2 separate regions of the Homo sapiens genome follow, and region 1 is linked to region 2. Evidence: fine-mapped expression QTL. A gene starts in region 2. The other region holds a variant in brackets. All regions are shown on one strand. Distances are from middle to middle. Region 1 holds the start of LOC124901750 (a long non-coding RNA gene). Region 2 holds the start of AGBL3 (AGBL carboxypeptidase 3).

The links. PIP is the estimated chance that this variant, and not a neighbour inherited with it, causes the effect.
Region 1: its variant is the best candidate, but not a certain one, in a credible set for the expression of AGBL3 in gastroesophageal junction (GTEx, PIP 0.73).

What each region holds. Positions count from the first base shown.
Region 1 is chr7:134,839,107-134,851,936 of GRCh38, reverse strand. It overlaps CALD1 (caldesmon 1), which reads right to left. Exons shown (of 15, transcript NM_033138.4): 2 at 7,966-8,053. It overlaps LOC124901750 (a long non-coding RNA gene), which reads left to right and starts at 8,053. Exons shown (of 2, transcript XR_007060537.1): 1 at 8,053-12,830. RefSeq lists an enhancer at 5,733-6,932. The variant A/G (reference allele first, on the strand shown) is at 6,307.
Region 2 is chr7:134,979,469-134,992,298 of GRCh38, reverse strand. It overlaps AGBL3 (AGBL carboxypeptidase 3), which reads right to left and starts at 5,791. Exons shown (of 17, transcript NM_178563.4): 1 at 5,598-5,791; 2 at 4,303-4,424; 3 at 2,989-3,049. The coding sequence starts at 4,365. RefSeq lists enhancers at 801-850, 5,100-5,359, 5,440-5,579, 5,590-5,889.

The sequences.
Region 1 (12,830 bases), 140 kb after region 2:
GACTCCAAGTTCCAAATAATGTCACAGCTGTGATCCTTTGTGCTGTTTGCCCCATATTCTTGTTTTACTTCTTCTGGGCACATTATAGTATTGTGCTTGCCCCTTGTGGTCATCTGGGGCCAAGTGGCTAATTCTGGCCAATGAGTTTTGAGCAGAAGTATCATGTCACTTCTGGGGTAGACTTGCCAATAGGAGACCCTCCAAAGAGCTCTTTTCTCTCCATCATGGTTGGTAAGATTTCCAGACAGTCATTGTCAGTAGGGGTGGCTAAGCATGGATGACAGTGATGTGGACTAGAAACCCTTGCCTATCCAGGGTTAGTGACAAAGCATGAGTGATAAACACACGTTCATTTTGACGTTGCTGAGATTTTGGCTGTTTCTGACACCAGCATAACCTAGCTTGTCATGACTGATAGAGTCTTGGCCAGCTCTGACATTAGGTTGTACTCGTCTCTGTTTCTAAGCAAGTGCTTGCTCAGATTCCTGATTTCCTATTTCCCTTCTGAGACCTCTAGTTTAGAAACAGGGATAGGTAGGTTAACCGGAACACTGTTTGCAGGTAGAGCATCAGGGAGTGGAAGTGACTCATATTTCACTTCCTTATGGGCCCATCTCTTTACTCCAGTGAGCCATAAAACTGCCACTAACTGTTGCAGTGTTCGTGTATTATGGGATCATTCATTTATATCAGGCATGACAAACTCAAATAGCTTAAAGGACCAAAGAGGTAACTATTTGGGGAGTGGTAGCTTATGGGAAAATGGAGAACATATGCATCCCTGCATCCCTATGAGCATTCAGACTCAAAATTTGAAAAAAATGCTTGTATTAGTCTATTCTCACACTGCTAGTAAAGACATACCTGAGACTGGGTAATTTATAAAGGAAAGATGTTTAATTGAATCACAGTTCCACGTGGCTGGGGAGGCCTCACAATCATGGTGGAAGGTGAATGAGGAGCAAAGGGACGTCTTACATGGCAGCAGGCTAGAGAGAGCATGTGTGGGGGAAATCCCCTTTATAAAACCATCAGATCTTGTGAGACTTATTCACTATCATGAGAACAACACAGGGAAAAACCCACTCCCAAGATTCAATTACTTCCCACCTGGTCCCTCCCATGACACATGAGGAATATTACAACTCAAGGTGAGATTTGAGTGGGTACACAAAGCCAAACCACATCAAGGGTGGACAAGGGAAGCACATTTGCAGGGCAGCATGGGCCCTGGGTTGCTGTCTTTCACTGATGGCTGACCATGTGCCATGTTAGGCACTGTGAGGAGTTGCAAGAGTGAACCCACAAGCAATCCCATATAGCTTTCATTCTAGATGGATAAGTTGATTTCTTTCGACAACAGTTATGTAGCACTTACTATGTACCAAGCACAGTTCTAAGAACTGTGATAATATCAGTTTAAATCCTTGTGACAATCCTTATTATTTCCATTTTACAGATGAAAAGACAGAGGCCCAGAGAAGGTGAGTCATTGGCCCAAGGTCACATAGCTAGTAAGTGGTAGAGCTGGGGTCTACATCCAGGCAACTCAGCCCCAGATTGTGTGCTTTTAATCACAACACTCTGTTACATCTCACAAGACCTGTAAATGGATAATACATAGTAGACTGTAGCAAGGACCTCAATGATGAAATGATCACGTGATTGCCTGGAAGGATTTATGTTCTTCTACAAATGCTCTTACTAGGAGCTGTTTCCTGTCAGCAGGAGGCCTTGGCCTGCTTGATGTTAGGTTCCGTTCATATTTGATGTTTATTAATGAAGTAAAAATGAATCTTCTGTTTATGTTCACTTGTGCCTTGGCAAACTGATTTATTATTTCACTTAAGTGGGGTTCACTTTAGAAAATAAGCTGAATTTGTCTTAAAGCCTTAAAAAAATAAATGATCACATTTCACACTTTGACCATTTCTTTGCTTTGCTTACTTAATTAGCTTTAGACACGATGCTAAATCATCTCAGTATATCTGTGTCAGTTTCAGGGCAGATCCAGGTTTTGTGGGACCTGAAGATTATTTGAGAGGCCTTCTTGGAAAACCAGAATACAATAGTAAATGTAAAAAGTTAGGCATGGGGGTGTTGAGGCAGGGACCTCTCCCCATGAGAGGCCCTGCGGCTTAAACTCTACTGACTTCACGGTAAATTGGCTTCTGGTCTCTCATCTTTGATTCTCATGAGCATTTCATAAAAATATCACAGCACCCTTATTTTGCTTTTAAATTCAATTACTATCAGCTCTCCATATCCATGGGTTCTGCATCCATAGATTCAATCAACCAGGGATAGAAAAATATATTTTTAAAAAAAACCAACGCAATTAAAAAAACCATACAACAATAAAAAATATAATAGGAAATACAGTATAACAGTGATTTACATAGCATTTACATTTTATTAGGTGTTAGAGGTAGAGATGATTTAAAGTATACGATAGGATATGCATAGATTATGTGCAAATACTGTGCCATTGTATATCAGGGAACTGAGCATCAGTATATTTTGGTATCCTCGGGAGTCCTGAAACCAATCCCCTATGGATACAGAGGAAGCAGCATACTTGGAACTACATTATAATCTGCTTTTAACAACATTCTATACAAAAGTTAGAATCTAGGAAACAATAATGTAGGGGGCAATTATGCATTACCCTTCAAGTGATTTGCAGAAAAGTAGATTTACAGATATAGCCAGTGCATGCCTGTGTTTTGCCTATAAACCGCATAATAAAGTGTGATAGGTGGATGAGAGGGCAGAGAAATTTAAAATATTATGACCCTTTGCCAAGACGAAGCCAATGAAAAATAAATACAGTATTAGAAATCACAATTTACGTCACTGAACACGTCATTGGATTCACAAAATTTTCCATTGCATTTAATTAAAAAAAAGCCCATTTTATGGTAAGGAATACTAGAATTGCAAATGTAACACAGAACTAATATGGCACGTGAGATGGAGAAGGTCCAATCCAGTGATATCTGTAGAATGAATGAATTAACGACTGACTGAATATGCATATTTAAGGAAGGTGCTAATGGTGGTCACAGGCTTCCCTCATCAACCCCAACTTATAATTGCATTTTAAAATTTATAAACCATTAGCCAATAATGGGAGACAGTTAGCTAGATTCCCGGAGTCTCTCATAATAACAAATGTCTTTATATTTATAATTTTGTAATTCTGTGTGAAATCAGATTCAAAATCATGGTATCATATACTTATGGGAGGAATTCTTTGAGGAACTTGGAGAAAATACTCCTAGAAGAGCTTCTTCATTAGGGCCCAACATGAATGCAGTATGTTTGCATTCATTCTCGTCTGCATCCTGTGGATATGGTGAAATGCTTTCCCCCAAACTCAGGATGCCCCATTCCATGATATATCATATTTGGTCATTAAAGAACAGGATTCATTATTAACATTGGCCTTCTTCACTGCTCTTTAGCAAAGTGTTTTCAGCCAAATATATTAAACTAGTCAACTGCCCTTTTCCCCTGTCAGTAAAACAGCCAGCATCCTGAAATCACAGCTCATTTGTACCACATTGGCGTGAATATTCAGACTTCATTTGTCTCTAGCTCTTAGAGGCTGGTGTTAGAGTGCGTGATGGACATTTTGTTTTGAATTAGCGAAAGGGAGGAGGAAAGAAAAAATCCAAGTTATAAGTTTGGGCTAAAATATGTTTCAGGGAATGCAGCTCTGCCTTTTCCTCTAGGAAACGTCTATTAAAAAAAAATCCAGATTTAATTTGGCATTAAGTTGAGCCTGGGATACAGAGAATAGTAGGAAGGAAAATGTCTTAGGGCTTTTTTTTTTTCCCCAGACTGTTTGTTCTGCTTAAGTCCTATTTGAGTACTGTTGCACGGCGTGGTATGAGATGTTCACAACTTAATCCTGTTAGGCATCCTAAAGCAGAGTTCAGAAGCAATTGAGTCTGTGTCCTGTAACTGTACAAATGCTATTCCAGTTGGAACCTTAGGAAAGGCTTGATAGTTTTTGGTTCAAAGCTAAATAGCACAATCATTCTTTTCTCTTTACTTGTGTACTCACTTGCGCTTATGGGGAAAAAAAGCCTGGAAAGGAGTTCTAGACAAGAGCTCCTGGCACCGTTGTGTGTTTTTCTCCCTGCTGTATCCCCCTTCTCAGCACAGTCTTTCTCTGTCAATGGTCATGCCAGGCAGAAAGGTGTGTTTTCATGGAGGTGCCTCTTAAGACCAGGTGCAATTCCCTGGCCGGGGAAACACGTTTATTTGGGCAAGGTTACTAAAGCTGCACGTGGTGGTGTTGGAATGTCCTCTACCCTCTTTACTATGGAGGTTTCCAGAACGCTGGGAGTCCCATGGGACCTGTGACCTCGTGTCCCCTCAATCCTTAACCAAATCTGGACTATGCCCAGGCTCATTGTGGACTTTTCTTCTCATATCTCATGACAAGGACCCTGAGAGTGGTCTCCTTGAGAGGAGACTCCCAGGGAAGGGAGTGGATTCCAGACCTTCTCCCATATAAGCCTAGTTCTACAGCCACTACTAAAAACCCACAGGAAGGAATCTTAGTTTAAGAAAGATCCCTTCAGATCCTACTATAAAAAGCTTGGGCCCACCTGAACCAAAGGAGACTAAGGACTTTGTCAAGGTTTCCAGGGAGGCTCATTCTGCAAAACTCAAGAAAAGAAGAAGAAAATAAAAACCCAAGCTTCTCTTTCCACTCCATCTGGAGCTTCGACTGACTTCAAAAATACTGGCCCACAGTGGTTATAAAATCTCCCATTCGAAAACAAGGGCAAAGCCTTCGAAGTGCTTACAACTCAAAGCACTTCTTTTACGTGCTCATAGGAAAATGATCTTTCTCTCCAAGCCCACGAGCTGACTGAAATTAATGAAACACAGTCGGGAGGCACCTATGTTGGCCACTGGCCATCATTCATTGGAACACCCCAACTAGACCATTCATGGATTGCAAAGGGTTTCCTCTTGCTTTCAACATTTCTCATTTGATATAATTAGTAATTTGCATAAAATCACTGACCCAAGTGTCACTGACATTTTGGGTACCTTCGAGAAAATGGGCATCTTTTTCCTGGCTACTCCAAGAACACAAAGAGGAAAGTGTGGAAGTGGGTTCTTGAAGAAAGCTGGTATCTCAATGTACATTTAAAACAATTGGGTGAGGAGGGGGAATAAAGAAATGCAGGAGGTGGCTTCCAGATCTCTGATAGCCTCTTCTGCTCATAATCAGAAAATCACCCTGAAGCTCAAGGGTTTCTACTAAGGAAGGAGAACTAAGGGAGAGAGAAGAAACATAAAGCAAGGAGAGAACTTAAAGGAAAAGAAATAACACTTTGGAAAATAAAAGAGAGATGAATAAATACCTTTACCCCTTTTATTTGCATCATGCTAGCAGGGCAAATTAGGGAAATTCAGCCCAGGGGTAAATATGGCTCCGTGAGAAATGACATTTGATGGTGAGGCCTAGAGAGGGGAGGCTGGTAATGACTGTCAGGGGCCATGGCCTGGCCCCTCCACTCTCTGGTCTGGCAGGGAAACCCTAAAATACTGCCAAAGCTTATTCTGGGGAACAGGTGGAGTGGGACAATCAGCAGGGGACAATGGACAAAGGAGGGAGTTCAGGGCAAAAGAGGCACAGCCCTCCACCCCTATCTGGGGCCTTTACTGACTAAACAAGATGATGCTCTGTGACCATAGCGTCACAGCCACCTGACCCTGAAAACGACCTGCCTCTGTCTCTTTGGTCATTAAGGATTCTCATCCTGGCCTCCCCTCCTGTCCATTCTGATCAGCTCTGATTGGCTGATGAAGAAAATGGGCCCAAAGGAAGTTTGTCTAAGATTCCCTGAGCAGGCAGCAGGGGAGTTGGACAATGACCATAGGTGGAGTTAGCTAGAAGGGAGCAAAGGTGGGTAGGAGAAGGCTCACAGGAATGGTTTGGGGCATAGCCCCCAAAAGACAGGACAGAGAAGGAACAAAATAGGTCCAAAAACACTAGGGGAGAAAAAATAGACACACACATTAGCTCATCTACATGTTCTCACACAGCTTCATTAGAAGTATCGTGCAGTGTTCTTCCTCTTGGACGGGTCCTTCTCCTGTTATCTAGCAGGAAAAATTTCCATACACAATTTCTGATGGAATCTTTAAGCCACTGCTCCTCTCCCTCTACACAGTCTTCCTTGGTGGCCTCATTCATTGACACACTGCTGCTTCCTGCCTGTAGGTGGTGACTGTGAACATCTCTGGTTCTCACCTGACCTTCAGACCTGCATATGC[A/G]TTGTTTTCTAGACACATGCCCTTGCATGTCCCACAGGCTTCAAACTCAGTAAGTCCCTCTTGGATCCCCGAACAGTTTTCTTGTGGAAAGGCCACCTTAACTGGGGCATGCTTGTGCTATTTACTATTTCCTACCTCTGGGAGAAAGGTAACTCTCCTGCTATTAGTCAATCACACCTTTCTTTCAATTTTTCTCCTCAGCCTTAACTTATTTCTACCTGTCTTGGGGGGCAGGAAGTGAGGAGAAAGCATCTTTAATACTCATCATTTGGAGACAGTCTTAAAGCAAATAAATTGCAGGTTCAGAGGCTGCATCTAATCCTCTTTCCATTCATTCATTCATTCATTTAATAAATATTACAAAATGTCTACTGTATACAAAACCTCCTCTAGTGCTATGAGAGATGTAAAAGGCACACTCTCTGATTTCAGAATTTATAGAATGTCATAGGGAAATGAGAGCTGTACCCAAATGATTATAATACACTCTAAGAACTGCAGATGCTCTGAGAGTAATGTAATCGCTAAAAGAGTTCAGGAGGGGAGAAACAGAGGGAAGCCCACGTGCAATAAACAAAAAGTCAGCATATTAGAGAGGGAAAATGATGGTGGCAGCATTATGGGCTGAATGGTATTTCCCCCAAATTCATACGTTGAAATCCTAACTTTCAGGATCTCAGAATGTAACCGCATTTGGAGATGAGTTCTTCAAAGAGTGATTAAGTTAAAATGAGGTCTTTAGGGTGGGCCTAATCCAATATGACTGGTGTTTTTACAAGAAGAGGAAATTTGGGCACAGAGAGAAAGACACCAGACAGGTGTGTGCCCGGAGAGAGGACCACGTGAAGACACAGGGAGAAGGTGGCCATCTGCAAGGAGGGCCTCGAGAAATCCACCATGCCAACACTTTGATCTCAGACTTCTACCCTCCAGAATGGTGAGAAAAGAAATCTCTGTTGTTTAAGCCACCCAGTCTGTGGATTTTCACTATGGTAGCCTGAGAAAACTTGCATGGGGGCAACAGATAGAATTTTGAAACAACAATTGCCTGAGTGGTGTGCTGAACTCCTGAAGAACTTTTCTACCTACTGGAGCCAAGCTCAGCAAAACTGTGAATGAGTGAAATGCCCTTTGGTTTCTCCATCCTCTAAAGTGGAAATCCCCTCTTTCACCTCCCTAGGTGGTCCTTGTTCTGGTAGAAGTTTTCCTCCCAGGTGAGAGAGATTTGTTGAAAGTGAGGGGTACTTAGCACTCCTGAGATCACCAGTGTTTGCACAAAGGTGAGCTTATTCACCTTGGAAGGCTGACTCATGTTGTCTTTATTGATTCAAGTCACTAGCATTTTTCACAGGAAGTGAAGACTTCATGATTGATCCAGGACTGTTTTGTGAAAGATATTACATTGCAGGAAACATTTAAAAATAAAGCAAAAAAAAAAAATCAGATTACAAAACAGGATAAAAGACTTGATAGATCCTTCAAAACTTGATAGATTCTAACTGATTAATTAACTGGCAAGTAAAGTAGGAGGGCCACAGCAGAAAAACTGGTTTCTCACAGTGCATCTTCAGATGTAAGAATTTAGAATATCAGGCACAGAGGCTGTGTAATTCCTAAGAGCAGAGCCCAAAGTATTAATAAAACATAAACTTTACTCACAGGTCAGCAATCAGATGTCTGAGCCTTCTGGTTGGTCACCAATCCCTGTGGAATTTGATTTGATGATCTTGAAATGTTCCAATGATACCTGGAATAAAAGGAGGATGGAAACATAATTCAGTTGAATGAATTTTAGCTAATACAGACTATATATTTTCAAATATCATTTCTTCCTCAAGTACTGTTGTTAGTTAGAATCTAAAGGGAGAAGTAAGGCAGGGGTAGAAATAGCTATTGTGCATTTGCATTTTAAGGAAAATACAGTTATCGCAAAGTCCATCCATTTATTCTGAATAAATTATTCTGGAGAAGGAGGTATAGTTAAGACAAACCCAGGGATAGTATCTAATTGCCAAGTTTCTTTTTCACTGCTCCCAATCCCCTCAGTAATTTTATTTCAAAATTTGAGAATGAATAAAGGGAAACTGAAGGAAGAAAATGTTATAAGTGGAAAACTTTTTTGGTCTGTAGTGTCTATGTATGTCCATGAACTACCTTGTTAGTGAGACAAAGACAGAAAGGCTTTCAAGAGAAAACATAAAATGAATGGCAGAGTCACTAACAGTGGAGTTTGTCTTCAGATAATCTCTTTCCTTTCTATTTTCAGATTTAGGGTCTAAGGGCCAGAGAGTTGCTAAAGCTCTTACTCCCTGTTTAAGATCTTTCTCTCCCATCAGTTACCTCGCAACTTCAAATAGACGCCCGGGTGAACCATTCCTCCCTTGAGCCCTTTAAGCCATAGCTTTTAATGCAGTGCCCGACACACAGATGCTGGCTGCCCTGGCTCAGAAGCAGTTGCCAAAGGTCTCTGCAGGGAAAGCTGAGTCTAGACCGGAGGTAGTAAGGAAGGAAAAGGCCCAAGATGAAGGAAGACGGGAAGGGAGCTGGGCCCTGTTAGGCAAATGAGCCTGTCTTCCTCCCCGAGTCCCCATTGCAGCCAGTGGCAAACAGCCAGGCACTAGTTATTGCTCCTTTGATTTAACCATCTCCTCGGGCATGGGGAGAAATGAGTTTTATATGAAAACATTTACTATAGGAGAACCAAGGTGTAATAAAAAGAAAGAAGTAATTTCTTCCCTCTTGATCAGATTTCTAGTCCCCTAAGAATAGTGATTTTCTTAGAACCCCCAGGAAACCTCTAGCTAAAGTCATTCAGTAGCATGAAAAACTGTAACTAGCACCTTTCTAGATTAAACAAATAGAAAAACATTGCTAGCATATATTTACAGGAGATGGTTAATATCCTAATTTAAAATTTCTACTGCAAGTATTCTCAGAAAGATGGCATTTTCCAAATGGATACTAAGAGCAGAGGGTGAGATGATAACTTATTTCAACAGAGAATCATTGCAAAGGTTAAATTAGGGATCCTTTACAAAAATAAATAATTGTAAATAACTAACAAGAAGACCCAGATTTTCATTAATTTAAAATTTTATCTTACATGGTTGAATTAGGGTCTCTGATTTCAACATTACCATTTTTATAAAACAATTCCTCTGTGACTTTTTCATAATATGATTTGCTTTCATTATGGAAATAATAATAATAACTATTGTTTGTTAAGTATTTTTCAGTGGTAGGCCCTGTGCTAAGCACATTGCACACATTATTTCATTTGATGACTGTAACAACCTTGTAAAATACATATTCTTATCTTAGGATAAGCACTGAGAAGTTTCTTGGCTGAAGTCATTTGCCTGAATTCACCCAGCTAGTGGTGAGGCCAGTATTCAAAGCCAGGGCCTGACCCACCATGCTGGGTGTATTTGGTGGATACAGGAGCCCACTTGCTTGTTCACTGAGTGAGTCCTCTGCTTCAGGACACAGCACAAGGTGATGTACAAGGGCTCTGCTTCCATGGAGCTTATACTCTGCTGGAGTTCAGACACCATACATTTCTGATAGTGAGTGAGCAAATAAAAAACAGCAGGATGTAAAGAGGTCCACTGAGGGTCCCTGGAGGTTGGATGGTGAGGGATAGTCTCTCTGAAAAGGAGACATCTAGGCTAAAAACACATTTCTAGGAAGAAGCCCCCCCATGTAAAGATCTGAAGGAAGCATGTTCCAGGCAGAGCCCTTGAGAAGCCTGGTGTGAGGCTTTTATGAGATGGCTGTGTGCTCTGGGATCATGAAACTTCCAAGTTACTCAGTCCATGTGGGATTCAGGCTCATATGTCTGTTCGTAGAGTACACAATGCTGAAAGATGTGCTGGACACAGGGTCTTACCAAAAAACGATCCCCACAGGGCTGCCTTTGCTGGAAAGCATGAGGATCTGTCCCTGCCCAGAGATGAAAGTGCCAAAGAAGCACATGATCACCTTTGTATCCAGTGCCCAGAGGGATGGAGGTTCCCCACTCCCTTTTTTGCTAGGTAGACTTCAAGAGAGCTGTGTTCTACAGGCTTGCACGAGCTCCTTTCATACATTAGAGGATAAGGCAGATCATTTCTTAATAACAGACAGAAAAATGAAAAGCTACAGGACATAATCCTTAAAATGGGAAAGGAATGGCAAGTACCTATTTCAATCATAGTTGGCAGGAAGTCACATAATTTGTGGGGATGGAAATTAAAATAAAATATTTAAAAATAGATCGATGGGTTTTAGTTAGAATGAGCTAGTAATAATAACACATTATTAATTGTCTCTGCTTTACATTTATAGTTAAACATGGGAGCTAGGAGTATGTTAGAAGAAAAGAAATATATGATCTTAGGGAATTTGGGTCATTTAAATAAATACTAACAAGTGAATTGACCTTGTACGAGTCATTTAACCACTCAATTTCTTCATCTATAAAATGAAGCATTTGGAATAGATTTGCCACAGTACTCAATTCAGATGATTTATTTCTACCATCTTTCCACGAAAAAAATGTATTGTGTATGTGAATGACCTTGATATCATTTTGAATAAAACAAGTTCAACCAAGTTCCCCCTTTTCAGCATCTAACAGGGTGCTCAGAGAAGAGTGTTGCTTTTCAAGTCCACCTATCCCGACTCCTTCTCTATTATTTCTAAGAGATGAGTGCATTTTATAACTCTAAGAGAAATTATAATATATTACATAATAATATCTATTATTTATTGAATACCTACTATTTGCGAGGTATTTGATATCTGTTCTTTCATTTAATCTTCACAAGAAAACTGTGAAACTAGTTGTTTTTTATTATCCCCACTTGGAAGTAAGATTCATTGTCACACAGTTAATAAATGACAAGTTAGAATTAAAACCCAGGTTTGTTTTATTCCAAAGCTCCTTCCATGACAGGATACATGGAGCAGCCATAGCTGCCAACACTGACATTTTCTTTTACCTTTTTGAGTTCTACACAACATTTTTCTTTAAATGTTTTGGAGGAGATTGTTGATGAGTTTGTGGAATGTAGCTAGACTGACGTAGGTATCTGCCTAAATGGAATAGCTTGTGGCAGTCCAGTGCTTTCATTGAGAATAACTAGAAACTCTGGATAATATTCCACAAAACCAAAATTAATTTGGAGGCATTAGGACACTTGGAGAGTTCAGCCACGGAGAAGGAGCAAACCAGAGGTTGAAGGAGTCTTGCAAAATGGAAGATGAGTTGTAGATCAGCTCAGCCCCATTTAACTGAAGAGAACTTTCCCAACTCTATCAAAACAACCAGAAGGTAAGACAACCCCTGTCTGTAGAAAAGTAACATCATCCCGCACCTAAATGAATATCTATATGGAAAAAGGAAAATCAAAACTTGACCTCTATTTAGCATCATTCCCCCAAATTCTTTCAGATTGATTGTGGATCTAAATGTGAAAACTTACACATTTGCGCTTTCAGGAAAAAGAAAATCTCCATGATTTTGGGATAGGCAAAGATTTTGTAAATGGGACATAAAAATAAAAAAACTTGTGTTGCATTAAAACTAAAAACCATAAAAAGAGTGGAGATGCTAGCCATAGATTGAGAAAATATTAGCAATATGGATGACAAAGAACTTGTATCCAGAATATATAAAAATTTCCACACATCAAAAAGAAAAAGATGGATGATCTAATAGAGAAATGAGTAATGATTTCAACAGGCATTTCACAAAAGAGGATATTTAAAATTGCCAACAACTAAAAAATAAATCAGCCAGGTGTGGTGGTGCATGCCTGTAGTCTCAGCTACATGGGGGGCTAAGGTGGGAGGATCTCTTGAGCCAGGGAAGTCAAGGCCACAGTAAGCCATGATCGTGACACTGCACTCCAGCCTGGGGACAGAGAGAGACCTTGTCTCAAAACAAAAACAAAAAGACAAAAAGATCAACAAGTGTATGAAAAAGTGCTCAATCTCATTAATCATTAGAAAAATTCAAATTGAAACTTATGATGAACTAAAACTACATACCACTAGAATAGCTAAAATTTAAAAGACATAAATCAAAATGGTGGTGAGCAACTGAAATGCTCATGCACTGCTATGGGAATATAAATTGGCAAAATCACTTGGGAAAAAGATTTGGCAGCATGTGCTAAAGCTGAATATTTGTATACCCTGTGACCCAGAAATCTTACTTACAGGCATATATACAACAAAAGTCCATGCATATATTCACCAGAAGACATGAACTTGAATGTTCATAGCAGTACTATTAATAATAGCCATGAAAAGGAAATAACCTCAATGTCTATCAACAGCAAAATGGATAAATTGTGGGAGGCAAACAATGAAACCCTATATAGCAATTAGAATGATCTAAGTTTTGCTCAGGCAATCAATCTCAGAATCATAATGTAAACAACACAACAAAAATTACTATATGATTTCATTAATATAAAAACCGAAGCCCAGACAAAATTAATACTTCATGTTAGAAATCAGAATAATGGTTATCATGA
Region 2 (12,830 bases):
AGCCCCGGAGTAAAGACTGTTGTGGCTGGACACACTCTAACAAAGCTGAAAGGCAAGCCTCAAAGTAATGAAACTGATCCACAAGCAAAACAACTGCTTATCAGGACAAAGTCCAACATTCTTTAACTGAATACAACAAAATCCAGCAACCACATGTAAAATTTGCAAGTTTGTCATTCACCCAAAAGTTAATGAACAAGAGTTCTAGTCCTGCTGTGGCAACATAAGTCTTATAAAGGCCTTCTCTCTCACTAATTCCAACTAAACTCTAGATAAAATACAAAAACATAACTATCTGAAGAATTTGAAAAGTAAACAAGAGCAGACTGTAGAGTTAATACTTAGAGAAGCACCCCCACAGGAAGGTGAGTCCAGCCCCTTGTTTGCTCTGGCCTGCTGAATGGCAGGCCTCATGCACAGAGAAGTGTGGTGGTGCAAATGGCTAAATCTCAGATAGAAACTGAGTCTTTTTTTTTTTCTGTTTACTAAAGTTTGGAGTTATTTTTTATTATAAATGTTTGATTCCAAAATGCTTGAGAGTAGCCTTTTCTTTTTCTCTTGAGCAGAATAATTTAGTCACACCACCCTAACAATGATAATATCCTATTTAGTGATTACCTACTATGTGCCAGACCCAGTGCTTGGAAGAGATACAAACATTGATAAGACAGCCTCTGAGATCAAGGCGTTCTCAGTACAGACAGAAAGAAGGAAGGGTTAGGTGATATGATATGGCAAGGGCAACCATGCAGGCATATACAGGATGTCATGGGAGAACATGGTGGGGTGGTCAGTAGTGTAGAGGTTGAGAAATTCTGGCCTAGACTAAGAAATGACAATATGTACACATACAAGAAAACAAACAAAAAAAATTCCTTCTCCAAATCAGAAACCCAGTCTTTCTTAACAGAAGACCCAGGAAAAGGGGTCCTTACAGTGTGGAGGGAATCTGAAGGGAAGAAAGCAACCAGAGAAAGGTATCTCCTAATCCTGTGTATGAGTGCACAAAAGTCTCATCCTAATCCCTGAGCTATGCAAGCAGACACACTCTCAGAGACTATGAAAACTTAACTGAAATTTTAACCAACCCCCCCCCCACCCACACACAAATGTCTCAGCTCAATCCCTGAATTACACATGTGCAAGATAGTCCCAAACCAATACAAGGAAAACTTAAGAGAACTAAACAGGACTTTGAACCATCTATACAAGTCTCAAAACCCCTGAACTACACTGGCATGGGAAAGAACCAAATAAGCATAGCAAAGGCTTACAGATCAGAACTGAGATCTGAATTATCCACAGAAGGGGCACCAGAACTTATTGCTTCAACCTAACTGGATTGATTGCCTGCTAGAAGAAATACACTGACCCAGAATCTACACAGCATAGCATGAATAATGGAAAACCAGGAGTAGGACCAGTTCTCAGGGCAAAAGGCAATCAACAAATGTTAACATCAAGATAACCCAGATGTTAAAACTATCAGACAAGAACTTTAAAGGAGTCATTACAATTATGCTCCATGAGGTAAGGGAAAAGCACACTTGTACTGAATTAAAACCTAAGAATTATTGGCGAAGAAATAACACATTGCTGGGAATGCAAAAGGATATAGCCACTTTAGAAAACAGATACAGTTTCTCATACAGTATATAGTTAGCATATAACCCAATAATACTATTCCTAGGGATTTACCCATGAGAAACAAAAACATGTTCACACAAGGACTTGTACAAAAATATTCATAGGAGCTTTATTTGTTACAGCCCCAAACTGAAAATAATTTAAATGAGCATGAATGGATGGCTAAATGGAGAAATTTTGATCTATTCACATAATGGAATACCTCTCAACAATAAAAAGGAACTACTGATATATGCAACAACATGGATAAATCTCAAGAGTATTATGCTAAATGAAAGAAGACAGAAAACACAAAATGTATGATTCTGTTTTGTGAAATTCTAGAAAAGCCAAATATAGGGGAGGGAACGCAAATCACTGGTTGCCTGGAGCCAGGGGTGAAGCCTGGAAGGAGAGGATCTACTGCAGAGACACAGGAACACTTAGGGGTGATTAAATGTTTTACATCTTGCTTTTGGTAATGTTCTAAACAAAGGAAGCAACATAAAGGGATTAGTATAAATGGGCAATTCAGACCAACTAAGAATATGAGTAGATAATAAGCCTATAGAAGTAATTCTCAATTTTTCTAGCAATCCCAGAAATGCTAGTTAAAGGAGTGAGTTATCTCCTGTTTTCTAATAGCTTGGCAAAATTTAAAAAACAGAAAAGGGTAGCAGGGAAATGTCCACAAAACAGTACTATAAAATTTCTATGCCTATGGGTATAGATATGTGTATATGCAAAGAAGTTCTAGAATGATACACACCAAACTAAGAATGGTGGTTATTTCAAACAGGAAGATTTATTTTAGGATGGTGGCAAAAGACAAAAGAAAAAAAAAAAGATAAAGGCCTTAACTCCAATTTCAGAGTATTTGTGACACATATGTAAATATTTAGTAGAGATATCTTAGAGTTTGAAAGTACAATTCTAAGTATAAATCTTTAAAAATTAAGTATACATCAAGATGTCCACACACATGTTCAGTTGCAAATGAATGACTTTATTAATGAGACTCTTTAGACAATGTACTTCGTTTAAATGAAGATGTACTTCTAACATAATCTGTCCGTTATAACTTGAGTCATACAGTCAATACATTTAAACAAATGACAAGGTAAATCCTTATGTTAAATATAAGATAATCACCACTTTCATTTATTATTTTCTAATATAAAATAGGCTTACCTAAAACAAACCTGAAAAGTTTGAACTCTGCAAGTAGATACAGTTCTCTTTCACAATCTACTAGAATAATCATTCCCTATATTATTCAATCTGACTTTTTAGTTTCCTCATCTTCTTTTTTATCCATTCAAAGTTTTATGCTAAACAAAAACTATATGAATAGGTTCAAACCTGTTAAAAGTGCACACCGATGAAGATCTTCACTTACAAATTTCATGAACATATCCTCATCCTAAAATAAGAATTTAAAAATATTTCTCTTTTAAAAACCAACAGTTTTCAAATCCAGAATTTTTTTACATCTATTTTAGTACTTGGGATTGAGTATATGTCTTTAACCTTTAATAAACGAGAAAATTAAAGGATTATTATCAGCTACTGGTCTCAATGCACCCAACACTTCAAATATCCTGAAACCTTAAAGTTTGCATCTTTCATTCCTCCTCTTCCACTGGGTGTGGTCATAATAATGACTTTATGGAAGGAATAAAGTTTAAAGATTCTTGATAAACCCGGGAAAACTATTTAAATTAAGAATAAAATTGGCCGGGCGTGGCGGCTCATGCCTGTAATCCCAGCACTTTGGGAGGCCAAGGCGGGTGGATCACCTGAGGTCAGAAGTTTGAGACCAGCCTGGCTAACATGGTGAAACCCCGTTTCTACTAAAAATACAAAAAAAATTAGCCAGGCATGGTGGCACATGCCTGTAATCCCAGCTACTCGGGTGGCTGAGGCAGAATCGTTTGAACCCAGGAGGCAGAGGTTGCAGTGAGCCGAGATCGCGCCATTGCACTCCAGCTTGAGCAACAAGAGCGATCTCAAACTCTGGCTCAAGAAAAAAAAAAAAATTAAATTAACAAAAAGAAAAACACAGAAAGCCATAAATCCTTTAAATAGCTAAAGTAAGCTTTAAGAGCTTATTTCGGGACATTAGTTTACATACATAATTTATACTTTAATAAAATTTGAAGGAAATCTCGCAGCCTATGTAGTAGAAAAAGACTAAAGAATTTTAAATACTACGTTTTTCCCCCTTTTTCTTCTTCCATGTCTCTTCCTTTATGACATCAGAGCCACAATAAACTGTTATGGTGATACACAATAAGGTTAGAACACGGTGGTTCTACTATGATTCATACTACGATGTAACACAATCCAATCAGCACATAGAAGAAAATAAGTGGACATCAATCCTAAAACTAAAACCCTACTAATAATTTCATATACAAATTTTAATAAAACCTAGAAGAATCTTAGCTAAAATATTTTCTCAAAAAAAATACAAATATAGTTTCTCTTTCTAGACAGGGCATAGTGTTCCCAGTGATAGCTTAGCTTTTTCAGCCAAATTATTTCCCAACTTCAATGACAATAATTTAAACATCCAATTGATTTTTATATCCAATTGATTTTATAATATTTTAATTGGGGATTTATATAATACAAATTTTATCTCCAAGTAAAATAAAGTTGAGAAAAACATACCGATTCATCTTCATCACTGATTGTTCTGTCTGAATAGTCTTCCTTTTCTGAATCTTCTGACATCTTTTCCAGTGTTTGACTTGAGATTTCTTGTAATATACGGGTAGGCTGTAAAACAATTTCTAAGGAAATTATATGACAGCTTTTCTTTTCAAGCTGTAGGTGTTTACTACATTAAATGAGTACTCAAAAATATATTCAATTGTATTTAACAGTCACAACAGTCTTCTCTAAAAACTAATTAGAATACAACTAATAAAACCTTCAATTTCAAAGAGTTAAAGGAATTTTCCATGACTATACGAGACAACAACCACAATAAGACAAATCAAGCAAATCATTTAATTAAAAGGAATTTCCAGAGTATACAGCCAAATCATTCACATTTTATATTTACAATTAAATACTACACAGCAAGTTCAGAATGATCCTGAGGCATTAAAAGATAATGAATTTAAAAATTATAGTCACTTACTGAAATGTAGCAATATAATTTTAAGTTTTCTCCTTGATTTTCACTTGACCAAAAGTTCAAGTGACAAGACTTTACATTTTGATTATTATTCTGTAGATACTGTCTGTTCTAATATTCATTTATATTATTCTTATTCTTAGAAATCTAAATAGCTACCAGAAGGTTGTATTGGTAATGACCATTACCATTCTATGCAAGTATCTTCCCATGTGGGTAATATCAAGACCAGGGAATAATCGAAATTTCTTGTCAAGTTCCCATCGTTCTTGAGAGACCAAAGGACTCGACAATTTCAAATCTATTAGTTTACGCCCCTCTCTACAGGAAGCGTGTTTTGGAGCGTGGACTACATATAAGTTAAGTCCAAGCTCTATGGCAAATCACTGCCAATGCCACGGAACCGACTGTCTCATAGATGACACCTTCAGTCCTAAGAAACTGAAGTTTCTGCCTGGGCATCACAACTCCACATTTGGAAAATCCGACTGGCCTAAATTCCATTCCTTACAGGTGCACACAGGGCGCACGAAGTGCTGACCTGCTGCGGATACAGCTCTGGTCTCAGGAAACGGCCCTTATCCACCGGCGCTCCGCGGGTGTCTTCCACCACTGCGGAGGAGGGGCAGATGCGGGCGCGTCCACGCTTAGCCGCGTCCCGACAGTACCAAGGCGTTTTTGGCGGGAAGCACGATGAGGCCACAACTCCGGGCGGCCGAGTTCCTTCCCGCACTCACTCCTGGACACCTTGGTGTGGGGAGGCGCTCATTTTCCGGGGCGCGCTCGCTTCCCGCAGGGGGCGCCCCGCCTTACTTCTGCATACCTCACCGTCCTGTCGGGGCCGGCACCTCGCTCCCACGCGAGTCCTCTGGCCAGGCCAGTCGTCGCTTCCGTGCGGGGAGAATATCTCGGGATCTCGCGATCTCGCGGAGAACCCGGTATCCAGCCGCTAGAAGTAACGCCACTGCTGGAGATCCGCAGCCCCAGCCACACTCCCAACTCTCGTCATCAGGCAACGGGTCCGCCCTCGCGAGACTTCGGACAGCCTTCGGAGATCACCTAGCAACCAGCTCGGAGGAAAGGAGCCTGCGTAGGTTTTGGCTCCAGGAAGAGGGATCCCAGAGGATGCCGGGAACTCGGGGTGGGCCGCAGGGCGGTCAGAGAGGCTCTCAGAGAGGCTTTGGGGTCTGTCGGGAGAATTTAGGAGTGGGGAAGACCGGGCAGCTATTTATTCCCAGTGGTCTGCACTTCGGCTGTTGCCTCAGAGGAGGCAGTAGAGCATGCTGGTTAGGACTGTGCTTTGGAGCCCACCTGACTTTTAACAGTGTGACATTGAACAAATTAATTACCTGGACTTCATGGGTACAATACTTGTAACTACTACTTGGAGATGTTAGAATATTAAAAAGTACGTTGGTCTTGATTTTTTACAGACTGAGTTCCATTCTACACAATTGTGCGATTAATTCGCTTATTCGATTCTGGAAAATGAGGCTTTTCTCCTTAAATACTAAATGGAGAGTCATAGATGAACTAGGGTGAATTCTCAAAATTATCAGCTCAGAGATTCTTTATAGCAATCGTCAGCTAGCATATTTAACACTGTTTTCCTGATGACTGCAAATCACTATATGTAGTCTCATTTAGTTAACAGACGTTATTCATGAACATCCCATATTGATTTTTTCCCTCATCTTTAGCTCTACAGGGTAAGGTAATCTATTTGGAAAAGTTTTCCAAGTACAGCTGAAAAAAAGTCTAGATTTTGATGATATAAGAATGTAAATAAACACTTTTCACAAAGCGTTATATGTCATGAGATTCGTGATATTGTAGAAATGGAGATAATAAATGGTAGCAAGTTTGAAAGTAGAATAAAGGGCAAAGCACTATGGCTTAAGCATGGAAATGGGTTAACATAATCTCTTTGTATTTTGTAAGTATCTGAAAATAGGTGTTTTTGAGGTCAGCAGTTTAAAAGTATGAACCTTCCAGATTAGACCTTGGCCAGAGAATATTAATAGAGTATATCTTAGATCAACCTCTTGAAAAGTAGCTCTTATAGTTGAAGCTTGTTTTATGCCATACATAAATCACTAAAGGTGACATGCACAGAGAAATCTTTATTTATGTAATCTGTTTTTCTGTTGGATTTTAGTCATGGCTGCAAGCCATAGGATGTCAGCTGTACAAGGTAAAACTGAGAAATGGTCTAACCAGGTTATATAAGAAATTAATGGCAGGGCTGAGAGACTTAAGTCTCGTGATTTTTAGTCCAAATAGTTATATTATCACATACCAAGTAGTCCATGGGAAGAAAAATGATCTTAATGCATAATTTTAAAAACTTAGGATTTTTTTTTTTTTTTTGAGACAGAATCTCACTTGCTCTGTCGCCCAGGCTGGAGTGCTGTGGTGCAATCTCAGCTCACTGCAACCTCTGCCTTTGGGGTTCAGGTGATTCTCATGCATCCTGACTAGCTGGGACTACAGGCACGTGCCACCACTAATTTTTGTATTTTTTAGTAGAGACGTGGTGTCACCATGTTGGCCAGTGTGGTCTCAAACTCCTGGTGTCAAGTGATCCGTCTACCTCAGCCTCCCAAAGTACTGGGATTACAGGTGTGAGTCACCGTGCCTGGCCAAAAACTTAGGAACTTGGCAAAACTTTGAAAATGATATTCATTCATTATTTTATTAACAACTTTTTTCTTTTTAAAGACAGCTCTGTCACCCAGGTTGGGGTGTAGAGGCACAATCATAGCTCACTGCAGACTCAAACTACTGGTCCCAAGAGATCCTCATGCCTTGGTATAACAAATTCACTGGATGGCTGCTGCCTACTAGGGACAGTTCACTATTGCAAGGAAAAAAACCAGACATTTATTGTGGAGGTTATGTTCTGGTGGGAGTAATCAAACAAACCAATGATGATAATAAAAATGATATCACTCAGACAATAACCGCTATGGAGAGAAATCAAGTAGGGGGGAAAAAAAAGAATAGGGGATGCTGGGAGTGGGGGGCCTTGCTAGGTTACTCTTTTAGATGGAATGGCCAGGGAAGGCCTCTCTGGCTAGGGGGCATTTGAGCAGAGGGATGAACTGTAGGATGTCTTAGGGGGAGACTCTGCCAGGCAGGGTAAGCAGCAAGTACATAGACTGAGAAGTCTGTGTTATGAACTACAGTTGAGCCTTGAACAACTCGGGGGTTAGGGGTATCGTCCTCTACATAGTTGAAAATCTGCATATAACTTTTGACTCCCCAGAAACTTAACTACTGAGAGCCTACTGTTGACTGGAACCCTTACTGATGACATAAACAGTTGATTAGCACATATTTTGTATGTTATATGTGTTATATACTGTATTCTTACAACAAAGTAAGATGAAATGTTATTAAGAAAGTTATAAGGAAGAGAAAGTGTATTCATTAAATGTAAGTCATTCATCATAATGGTCTTCATCCTTGTCTTCACATTGAGTAGGCTGAGGAAGAGGAGGAAGAAGAGGAAGAGGAAGGGTTATTTTATTAACAATTTTTTTCTTTTTAAAGACAGCTCTGTTACCCAGGTTGGAGTGTAGTGGAGTTGCTGTCTCAGGGGTGGCAGAGGTGGAAGAAAATCCCTGTATACTTGGACCTACATAGTTCAGACTCGTATTTTTCAGGGATCAGCTGTATACTAAGCAGTACTGTTTAGCCAAAGCTTAGCTGGAATCAGTATCATTTTAAGGTATGAGATTTCACAGGGATTTTTTTCTTCCCCAAGTAAAATTGAAATGGTTTGATTAAGCTTCTGCTTTTTTTTTTTAACTCTTTCTTTTTAACTTACTCTCCTATTAAAGACAGTACTATGTACTGGAAATGAAATTCTTTGTCTTTAAGTTAATATTGGAAGTAAGGCCTAGAATAAACTTCTACCAAGGACTTTGTCTGAATTTTTGTTCCCCTTCCCTATAATCTCACCAAAGAAAGTTACTGGACATGTTCCTTCTATAGACAGCTTCTGCCTTTTGGGAAGACAGCTTTACCCTTGTGGCAACTTTTTCTCCTTTTTTGTGTGTGTGTGTGAGTTTACTCTAAGACTGCAGTCTAAAAGGCAATATAATAAAAAATAGAGTAAGAAAAGAGGAAAAGACAACCAAAACTCTAAGTGCCAACTGTGCCAAAAAGCACAATTACTTGTGTGGGAATCAGGAAGAAAGTTCGTTTCAGCAGGATGGCCAAAGATAAGTTGTGTTAGGAGTATAATTTTGTGGAATTATATCATTTTGATCAGAATGAAAATAGAGTCATGAAAGTTAAGAAAACTCTGACAAACAGAGCTGGGGAAGGCCATGAAAGAAGAGTCCTCACATTTGTTTGCTTGATAATGAAAAAGACTCCATAACAACCATAACGTTACACAAGGGCCATCATAACCTTACACAAAAGATACTTCTACAAGGACATTGGCTAAGCAACTGCCTGGCTAACCTCAGACTGGCATCACTCTTGTTATTGATCTTTGTGGCTAAGGGTAATCATTTAAAAAACCAGTATGTAATCTTCCTTTTTTTCTTTTAAAAATCTTTATCTTCCTTTACCTCCCTGACTACACACATAGTTTACTATGACATGCATATTCCCATTGCAATGTTCCATTCCCAAATAAACATCTTTTAGAGAGCCTGTCTCTGTTATTTAGGTTGACAATTGAGAGGGGCTTAAATGAGTATATGAAGTGACTAGCGCAATCAGTTACTTATGACATCATAGAACTCAGTAGTCAAGTGACCTTAGAGGTCTTGTAATTCGACTGAGGAAGCCATAGTAGGGCCTGGGAAGCCTGGGATAGTCTAGTAATTATCTTGGCCTTCTTCATACTATCTGGGTCTAGGATGACCTAATACAGGGCCAAACCTCTTAAACTGTTCCCAAGCTCAAATCTTGAGATCTGTCTCAGCCAGTCAACTAGCCAACACTCAGCTTAAGCATCATTCACTTGATGATGTCTTTTCTAATTACTTTGTCATTGGCAGAATTAATTGTCTGTATTTGGGGGCTACAGTGAAGCTATCGTTGCCCTTAGTATTTGGAAATGAGTTAGTAAGAATGCCTCCTGCCTGCTCAACAGATAATAGATAGGATAAATCATCTCAAAAGAGAACGAATGGTTCCGAGACTCAGTGTGAAATCCCATGACAACAAACATGAAATTGTCTTTTTTCCCCCAAAAAACTGCCCTAACTGTGCAATGGTGAAATTCCCTTTCCGGCTGAGGGCATGTTGGCTAGAGTTGGTAACTTTTCAGCTACTAAAACAGTATCATTTTGATATTTGAGATTTGCTTCTGGTATTTGGCATTCGATTTGGCATTAAGAAGTTCATTTTTTTAAATTATACTTCAAGTTCAAGGGTACATGTGCACAACGTGCAGGTTTGTTACACATGTATACCTGTGCCATGTTGATGTGCTGCACCCATTAACTGGTCATTTACAATAGGTATTTCTGTTAATGCCATCTCTCCCTCCTCCCCCCACCCCAGGATAGGCCCCAGTGTGTGATGTTCCCCGCCCAGTGTCCAAGTGTTCTCATTGTTCAATTCCCATCTATGAGTGAGAACATGTGGTGTTCGGTTTTCTGTCCTTGCGATAATTTGCTCAGAATGATGGTTTCCAGCTTCATCCATGTACCCACAAAGGACATGAACTCATTCTTTTTTATGGCTGCATAGTATTCCATGGTGTATATGTGCCATATTTTCTTAATCCAGTCTATCATTGATGGACATCTGGGTTGATTCCAAGTCTTTGCTCTTGTAGATAGTGCCACAATAAACATATGTGTGCATGTGTTTTTATAGTAGCATGATGTATAATCCTTTGGGTGTATACCCAATAATGGGATCTCTGGGTCAAATGGTATTTCTAATTCTAGATCCCTGAGGAATCGCCACATTGACTTCCACAATGGTTGAACTAGTTTACAGTCCCACCAACAGTGTAAAAGTGTTCCTATTTCTCCACATCCTCTCCAGCCCCTGTTGTTTCCTGATTTTTTAATGATCGCCATTCTAACTGGTATGAGATGGTATCTCACTGTGGTTTGATTTGCATTTCTCTGATGACCAGTGATGATGAGCATTTTTTCATGTGTCTGTTGGCTGCGTAAATGTCTTCTTTTGAGAAGTGTCTGTTCATATCCTTCACCCACTTTTTGATGGGGTTGTTTGATTTTTTTCTTATAAATTTGTTTAAGTTCTTTGTAGATTCTGGATATTAGCCCTTTGTCAGATGACTAGATTGCAAAAATTTTCTCCCATTCTGTAGGTTGCCTGTTCACTCTGATGGTAGTTTTTTTCACTTTGCAGAAGCTCTTTAGTTTAATTAGATCCCATTTGTCTATTTTGGCTTTTGTTGCCATTGCTTTTGGTGTTTTAGTCATGAAGTCCTTGCCCATGGCTATGTCCTGAATGGTATTGCCTAGGTTTTCTTTTAGGGTTTTTATGGTTTTAGGTCTGACATTTAAGTATTTAATCCATCTTGAATTAATTTTTGTATAAGGTGTAAGGAAGGGATCCAGTTTCAGATTTCTACATATGGCTAGCCAGTCTTCCCAGCACCATTTATTAAATAGGGAATCCTTTCCTCATTTCTTGTTTTTGTCAGGTTTGTCAAAGATCAGATGGTTGTAGATGTGTGGTATTATTTCTGAGGGCTCTGTTCTGTTCCGTTGGTCTATATCTCTGTTTTGGTACCAGTACCATGCTATTTTGGTTACTGTAGCCTTGTAGTATAGTTTGAAGTCAGGTAGTGTGATGCTTCCAGGTTTGTTCTTTTTGCTTAGGATTGGCTTGGCAATGCAGGCTTTTTTTTAGTTCCATATGACCTTTAAAGTAGTTTTTTCCAATTCTGTGAAGAAAGTCATTGGCAGCTTGATGGGGATGGTATTGAATCTATAAATTACCTTGGGCAGTATGGCCATTTTCATGATATTGATTCTTCCTGTCCATGAGCATGGAATGTTCTTCCATTTGTTAGTGTCCTCTTTTGTTTCGTTGAGCAGTGGTTTGTAGTTTTCCTTGAAGAGGTCGTTCACGTCCCTAGTAGGTTGGATTCCTAGGTATTTTATTCTCTTTGAAGCAATTGTGAATGGGAGTTCACTCACGATTTGGCTCTCTGTTTGTCTGTTATTGCTGTATAAGAATGCTTTTGATTTTTGCACATTGATTTTGTATCCTGAGACTTTGCTGAAGTTGCCTATCAGCTTAAGGAGATTTTGGGCTGAGATGATGGGGTTTTCTAACCATAGAATCACATCATCTGCAAACAGGGACAATTTGACTTCCTCCTTTCCAAACCAAATACCCTTTATTTCCTTCTCCTGCCTAATTGCCCTGGCCAGAACTTCCAACGCTATGTTGAATACCAGTGGTGGCAGAGGGTATCCCTGTCTTGTGCCAGTTTTAAAAGGGAATGCTTCCAGTTTTTGCCCATTCAGTATGATATTGGCTGTGGGTTTGTCATGAATAGCTCTTATTATTTTGAGATACATCCCATCAATACCTAGTTTATTGAGAGTTTTTAGCATGAAATGCTGTTGAATTTTGTCAAAGGCCTTTTCTGCATCTATTGAGGTAATCGTGTGGTTTTTTTTTCTTTGGTTCTATTTATATGATGGATTATGTTTATTGATTTGCATATGTTGAACCAGCCTTGCATCCCAGGGATGAAGCCAGCTTGATCATGGTGGATAAGCTTATTGGTGTACTGCTGGATTCGGTTTGCCAGTATTTTATTGAGAATTTTTGCATCAATGTTAATCAGGGATATTGGTCTAAAATTCTCTTTTTTTCTTGTGTCTCTGCCAGGCTTTCGTATCAGGATGATCTTGGCCTCATAAAATGAATTAGGGAAGATTCCCTCTTTTTCCATTGATTGGAATAGTTTCAGAAGGAATGGTACCAGCTCCTCTTTGTACCTCTGGTAGAATTCAGCTGTGAATCCGTCTGGTCCTGGACTTTTTTTGGTTGGTAGGCTATTAATTATTACCCCAATTTCAGAGCCTGTTAT